Homo sapiens: one gene and its partner. The protein of the gene in region 2 interacts with the protein of the main gene of each other region in a pairwise test. Each region holds a gene or a part of one and is shown on either strand. Other genes may lie near its edges.

Evidence for each region.
Region 1: the proteins of SH3GL1 (region 2) and SH2D4A interact in binary tests that used the Homo sapiens proteins (3 or more experiments, as listed by UniProt).

Annotation. Positions count from the first base shown.
Region 1 is NC_000008.11:19,334,193-19,337,847, forward strand, and holds part of SH2D4A (SH2 domain-containing protein 4A), read left to right. Parts: intron 1-493; coding exon 494-665; intron 666-3,655. UniProt on the Homo sapiens protein: Inhibits estrogen-induced cell proliferation by competing with PLCG for binding to ESR1, blocking the effect of estrogen on PLCG and repressing estrogen-induced proliferation. May play a role in T-cell development and function.
Region 2 is NC_000019.10:4,393,901-4,397,555, reverse strand, and holds part of SH3GL1 (endophilin-A2), read left to right. Parts: intron 1-3,655. UniProt on the Homo sapiens protein: Implicated in endocytosis. May recruit other proteins to membranes with high curvature.

The sequences.
Region 1 (3,655 bases), on a different chromosome or scaffold from region 2:
TCAGTTCCCAAGGGCTAGGGATGCAAAGCAGACTCTGTGGCACAGTGGATGGTGCATTGGACTTTCAAGGGCTGGGATGCTGCCCACTAGTGCCTGTAACTTTAAAACTATCCATGGACATATGAAGATAAAGGAATTATTTAATCATCGATTGGAAGCAGACGGTGTGGTTCTAATAGGTTAACTTCTAAACCAGGAGTTGAGCAGACCAGGGTTCAGATCTTGGCTGTACCACTATGTGGTCTTGGATGAATTACAAAATTTCTTGGAGCTCTTATAACAAAGTGAGGATGACAATGCCTTCCTCACAGGGTTGTGATGAGGATGAAGTTAACGTCTTTACACACCTAGCAAAGGGCCCAGCATGTTAGAAGCACTCAGTAAGTGGTGTCAGTTACTGTTTTTCACATAATTTGAATGTCGACATATGCTTTGGAAAGGCTCTTCCTGTTGAAGAATGTTTTTTGAGAATTTCACTTTTGCCTCTCTTCAGAAAAACTCACTCTGAAGAATTCACCAATAGCTTGAAAACAAAATCACAGTACCATGATCTGCAGGCTCCGGATAACCAGCAGACTAAAGACATCTGGAAGAAAGTGGCAGAAAAGGAGGAACTGGAGCAAGGATCGAGGCCAGCACCAACCCTGGAAGAAGAGAAAATCCGAGTGAGTCCTTACTGTCTGTAGACGTGCGGAATTTCATCATGGGGGAGAAAAAGCTATTGAGGCCACAGAGACTACTGTGGCTGAGTGTCAGGATCCTCCAGTGGCTTTCTTGGGAGAAATGCCTCCTAACTTTAAGATCCTCCAGGGCAGGCACGGTGGCTCATGCCTGTAATCCCAGCACTTTGGGAGGCCAAGGCGGGCGGATCACGAGGTCAGGAGATCGAGACCATCCTGGCTAACACGGTGAAACCCCGTGTCTACTAAAAATACAAAAAAAAAAATTAGCTGGGCGTGGTGGCGGGCGCCTGCAGTCCCAGCTACTCGGGAGGCTGAGGCAGGAGAACGGCGTGAACCTGGGAGGTGGAGCTTGCAGTGAGCCGAGATTGCGACACTGCACTCCAGCACTCCAGCCTGGGCGACAGAGCGAGACTCCATCTCAAAAAAAAAAAGATCCTCTTGCTCATGTCACTTGGGGGATTTACCTTCCATGCTACATCATGGAAAATAAAGCACCCCTATTTCATGAGACTGAAAGTAACAAGAACGCTAGGAATGCAATTTGGCATTTTAAGATATTTTCAGGTTCTCCTCAATGCTGCCCCATTATATGTCTTCTGTTACAGCAGAGGTTGGCAAACATTTTCTGTAAAGTGCAACATAGTAAATGGTTTAGGCTTTATGGGCCATGCCATCTTTGTCACAGCTATACACAAATGAATGAGCATGGCTGTGTTCCAATAAAACTTTATTTTCAAGCACAGGCTGAGGGGCAGATTTGGCCTGTTCATGATTTAGATTACATTCTACTGAGTCTTAGCCTTTTTGTTGCGGATTCTAAACATCAGTGCCTGTTGGGCTTCATTGGCTCTGCCTGTGACTTGGGGACAGTTACCTCCCCAACATAATAGAAATTTTATACTCAGAATTGGTATGAATTCTCTTATGGTTCAGATGGTTTAAAAAACTCAAACATAATTTGCTGGTTGGATTATAGTTTGGGAGAACAATGAAACACCTTATTATTCTACCAGGAATTTAATTACACTGAGAATTAACAGGGATTTGCAGTTGTTTGATTTCCATTTATGTCTCCAGCCCTGCAGCACTGGCTGTGTGTGCTTTTGACTTCTTTGAGGCTATCATATGGGAATACAGGTATCTCCTGCCTCCTCCTAGGACCTAGTGAGACTCTGATAACTAACATGGTCAGGGGTTATTCCACAGCAAAGCACACTGCTGAGTGTCTCATGTAATCCTCACAATAACATGAACTAGAGACATTTGTCCATTTTACAGCTGGGGAAACTGAGGCTAGGTGTGGTTAAGCAACCTGCCCAAGGTCTTATTCAAACCCAGGTCTGCAGGACCCCCAGGCTATTCCTTAAATATTAACTACTAACTCCTTAATTCTTAACTCTCATGTTTGGTTGTGTCATTAATATGAGGGCTATGAAGAAGCTTTTTATGAAGGGCTACAAATATGAGGCTCAAAATATTTAGGAAGAGAAAATTCTAAATTTGGTTTTTCATCTCAAGGTCAGCCCTGGACATGCTCCCCACATCCTCATTGAGGCCTCCCGTCCTCCCCAGGTGTGCTTTGCACTCAGCATGTGTAACACTAAACTCCCCCAACACGGCTCCCCTTCCCACACCCCTCCAACCAAGAACAACAGTAATAACAAGAAAGCTCCTTCCAGAGTATTAATTATGCAGCTGAGTGTGTTTGCTCACACTTGTAATCTCAGTGCTTTTGGAGGCCGAGGCAGGAGGATCCCTTTTGAGGCCAGGAGTTCCAGACAAGCCTGGGCATAATCCTGCAGAGACAGTGAGACCCCCATCTCTACAAAAAATTAAAAAAAAACAGCCAAGCATGGTGGTGCATGCCTGTAGTCCTAGCAACTCAGGAGGCTGAGGCAGGAGGATCGATTGAGCCCAGGAATTTGAGGCTGCAGTGAGTCCTGATTACACCACTGTACTGTAGCCTGGGGGACCAAGTGAGACCCTAAGTCTTAAAAAAAAGTATTAAGTATGTATGCTTATATTTGTGCTTGAATTACAGTACTTTTTTAGACCTTTTTTTTTCAAAAGTAGGACAAAAGATTAAAATGGAAATTAAAATAGATACCACAGTTATTATTCTTTAACCATCTCATAAATATTATATTGAGAGTGGCACTGTTGCCTTCCTTAGGTGCCTGCTAAACTGACATATGGAAAGAGATGGGGGCAGGGGAGAAAGAAATATTCAGATAGAAGGAATATGGAAATAGATGGGTGACAGGTTTTTATATTCCTGCTTTTTATCTTTCCCTGTGTCAGAGAAGATGCTGTCAGGGGCTCCTGTGGTATTTGCTGAAGTTCACTCTGACAGCAGGCCACACAGCGAGGAGCCTGATTTCACAGCTAGTGTGAGCCTTTAAAGAGGTCGTCTGCTACCTCTCAGACAACTGACTCGATGGTACATTTATATTTTTATTGTAAGTTGTGTATATGTCACTATAGTGGTCTGAATATTTATCCCCCGAAATTTATGTCCACCTAGAACCTCAGAATGTGAGCTTATTTGGAAATAGATCTTTGCAGATGTAATTAAAGTAAAGGATCTCAAGATGAGATCACCCTGGATTTAGGGTGGATCCTAAATCCCAAGACAAGTGTCCTTATAAGAGGAGAGCCAAGGAAAATGTGAGAGAGAGTGTACTAGTCTGTTTTCATGCTGCTGATAAAGACATACCCAAGATTGGGCAGTTTACAAAACAAAGAGGTTTAATGGACTTACAGTTCCATGTAGCTGGGGAGGCCTCACAATCACTGTGGAAGGTGAAAGGCACGTCTAACATGGCAGCAGACAAGAGAGCTTGCGCAGGGAAATTCCCATTTATAAAACCATCAGATCTCATGAGACCCACTCACTATCACAAGAACACCATGGGAAAGACCCACCCCCATGATTTAACTGCCTCCCACCAGGTTCCTCCCACAACACATGG
Region 2 (3,655 bases):
TTCCCTGCTATAGACAGGTCTCTGGAAGCCACCACCCCCACTCCCAGCGATCAGGGCCTGTGCCCATATTGTCCTGAGCTGACACCCTCTTTAGAGGAATGAACCAGGCCTCTTGTGCCGGCCACCAGGACTTTGTCTCTCTCAAGGGAAGCAGGATGACCTGCGTTCAGATCTGTGAATGGCGCCTTGAAGCCTGGAAAGGACAGTGTGGTGTTAGCTGGGCTTAGGATTGCCTATTTCCACATCCCGAGGCCTAGTCCCAAAGCACAATGGCCACAGCCCACCCTCGGGGCTGTCGTCTTGGCCTCCTGGTCAATTCTGTCCTGAGTCGTGCTCTTAGAAGTCACCCTGGCTGCGTTCCATGCTCTTCTGTGATCATTGCCATGGTTCCCTCTGACATCTCAGCTGTTATCTGGACGTATCCGACTATTTGTGTCTCTTTTTTTGTTTTTAGTCTAATAACAACTCTTTCACCCTCTGCTGTGCCTGTTGGAAAGTGACATCTCTCGGGATCTCTCATTACGTAGTGATACAAACATTTATTGAGTTCTCACCATGTGAGCAGGCAGTATGCTTTATACCAGTAGGTCTCAGCTGGTCTTGCTTATCCGGTCTAAGGGTAAAAAACATTCCCCCTTTTACACAAAAGGATTAGGGGACATTTATCTTCCTGTAAAACAGGGCCAGTTCTGTCCTCCAGGGGACATTGACAATGTCTGGGACCTTTTTGGTTGTCACAGCTTGGTGCGGTGCTGCTGGCTACTAGTAGGTAGACGATATTGCTGGACATCCTCCGGTGCCCAGGGCAGCATCTCCCCACTGCCCCCAAGAATTACCTGGCCCCAAATGTCAATAGTACCAAAATTTGAGAAACCCTGCTTGAAGATTTGGAAAAAAAATGAGGATAATTATACCAAAACAAAGGAACAAAAAAATCCCCACTGAGCCATTCTTACGATTTTCCTAGTTTGGCCAGGTGTGGTGGCTCACGCCTTTAATCCCAGCAGTTTGGGAAGCACTCCAGCCTGGTGGATGAGAGCGAGACTTCGTCTCAAAAAAAAAAAAAGTAAAATATAAAATAAAACAAAGATTTTCCTAGTTTGCTAAACACAGATAGCCACATGTGTAGTTTGTTTTTGTTTGTTTGTTTGTTTTTGAGACGGAGCTTCTCTCTTGTTGCCCAGGCTGGAGTACAATGGCACGATCTCGGCTCACTGCAACCTCCGCCTCCTCTGTTCAAGCAATTCTCCTGCCTCAGCCTCCCGAGTAGCTGCGATTACAGGCACCCACCACCATGCCCCGCTAATTTTTTTGTATTTTTAGTAGAGACGGGGTTTCACCATGTTGGCCAGGCTGGTCTCGAACTCTTGACCTCGGGTGATCTACCTGCCTCAGTCTCCCAAAGTGCTGAGATTACAGGCATGAGCCATGGCACCCCGCCCCACAGGTAGATATTTACATAAAACTCAGCATCCAGACCCTAAGGTCGAGCCCACCCTCAAGTCTTTAGGAAAATTCGAGTGTCTTTCAGTATCTGGGCTTCTTTTTTAGGGGGGAGCTAGATCCACCATAAACATTTTATGTGTATATGTACACCGTTTATCATATACATATTGTGACAACTGTATATATATATATATATTTTGAGACAGAGTCTTGCTCTGTCACCCAGGCTGGAGTGCAGTGGCGCAATCTTGGCTTACTGAGACCAACCTCCGCCTCCCGGGTTCAAGCGATTCTCTTGCCTCAGCCTCCTGAGTAGCTGGGATTACAGGTGCGCCACCACACCCGGCTAATTTTTTTTGTATTTTTAGTAGAGACAGGGTTTCACCATGTTGGTCAGGCTGGTGTTGAACTCCTGACCTCATGATCTGCCCGCCTCAGCCTCCCAAAGTGCTGGGATTACAGGTGTGAGCCACCGTGCCTGGCCTAAACAACTTGTATGTATACATACACTGTTTATCATATATACGTATTGTGGCAACCATATGTATGAATAAGCCTTCAAAAGGTGAGCACCTGTATTTCCTGGTAATTGACAATGTCAGTTTTGTGTGATGTAGTCTCTATGGAATTTCCCGTACATATGATGACAGAAACAAAGACTGAAACATGGTTCACAGAGAAACACAGAACATACATGACTCTCAGAATAACCATGTCTGCTGCTGTGTAGGGAACTCTTTGAGAGGAAACACTTTCACTGCTGGCCTCAAATGCCACTATCCACTTAGGTTCTTCAGTGTGAACCTTTAATTCAAAAGTACCTTCCAGCTGATCACGAGGAACCTTTATCGCTTGCACCTGAGGAGGTCAGGGCTGCAGGGAGCCCTGATTGTAGCACTGCACTCCAGCCTGGGAGACAGAGCCAGACCCTGTCTCCAAAAAAAAACACCATTTACAGTGACTTAGAAAAGGGACAGTTTCCAGTGCTACACACAATGGTTCCATACACAGCTTAAAGGTTTCCAGTTCTTTGCTGGAACTTGATTTAATAGTTGAGAGCCACAGGCATCGGGGCTCCTGAAGGAGGGGCACGCGCCCATCAGCGCTGTCAGCCGGGGATGGCGCAGACCCCTTCCTTGGCTTGGCAATGTCGGAGACAGTTGTTATCGCAACTTTGGGAGAGAATGCTCATGGCATCGAGGGGATAGGGGCCAGGGATGGTTGCCAAGCATCCTACAATGCATAGGACAGCTTCCCCCCGCTGCAAAGGAAGAATTCTCCAGCCCTACGTCAGTAGAGTTGAGCTTAAGAAACCCTGCTTTAAACCAGGCTCTAGACTTCCAAGGGTTCTTACGGTGTCCTTTCTAAATTGATCAACAGAGGCCGGGAGGATGCGGGAGAGAGTGCTGGAAAAGATAAACTTACTTTCTAACAGGCGAGGCTGTGTTGTTGGTTCTGAGTTTCTGATCTCTCGTTGGTGATAATGGTAAGAACCTTAGTGGGTTCCAGGCTAGTTCATCTCCCTGCAAAACCTTTTGGGAACTTGTTCAAAATTGGTTTGGGCTTGAGTGGGCAGTTTGTGAGTTTTTACTTCTTGTCATGAACTGGCCATAGACTGGTTGAGGGCCTGAGCTGGGGAAAGTTGAATCATCTGGAAGAAAGCAGTAAAAAGCCGTCCGTCATGGTCCCATCTCCCTGGTTCCCTCCTTTCTGCCTGTGTGACACCCACTCCCTCAAGAGCCTCCTGGCATCCGTGCGCAGCTAGAACTGGGGGACTAAGGAGGGTGAAAGAATGCCGCTAGCGAGAGCTGCTCTCAGAAGTTCCCTTGGTGTGCTGGGGGTTTGGGTGACATTATTTCCAGGCTTAAGCTGCTAACTGGCTTCCTGATAAATCTTGTGGCCGGGCTGTGTGAGATTGAGAGTGTAACTAGGGGTAGAGCTGGCAGCTGCCTGGAATGCTGGCTTTTTTTTTTTTTTTTTTTTGCCTGAAAGGAGGGAGAGGGTTTGAACATTTGAATGGAAAGATTGCTTCAGACTGAGCTAGGAGGGACATTCACAAGCGTCACCTCCCATAGCTTTGAAATCTGCCTGATGCTCCTTAGGCCCTGGGTTTGTGCCTAGGAGAAAAGGAGAGGCCAGGGGGGTTGGGGGAGGACTGTCTGCCGGGGGATCCTGGGCCCCACCTATTTGGGGGCTGTAGGTCAGAGTA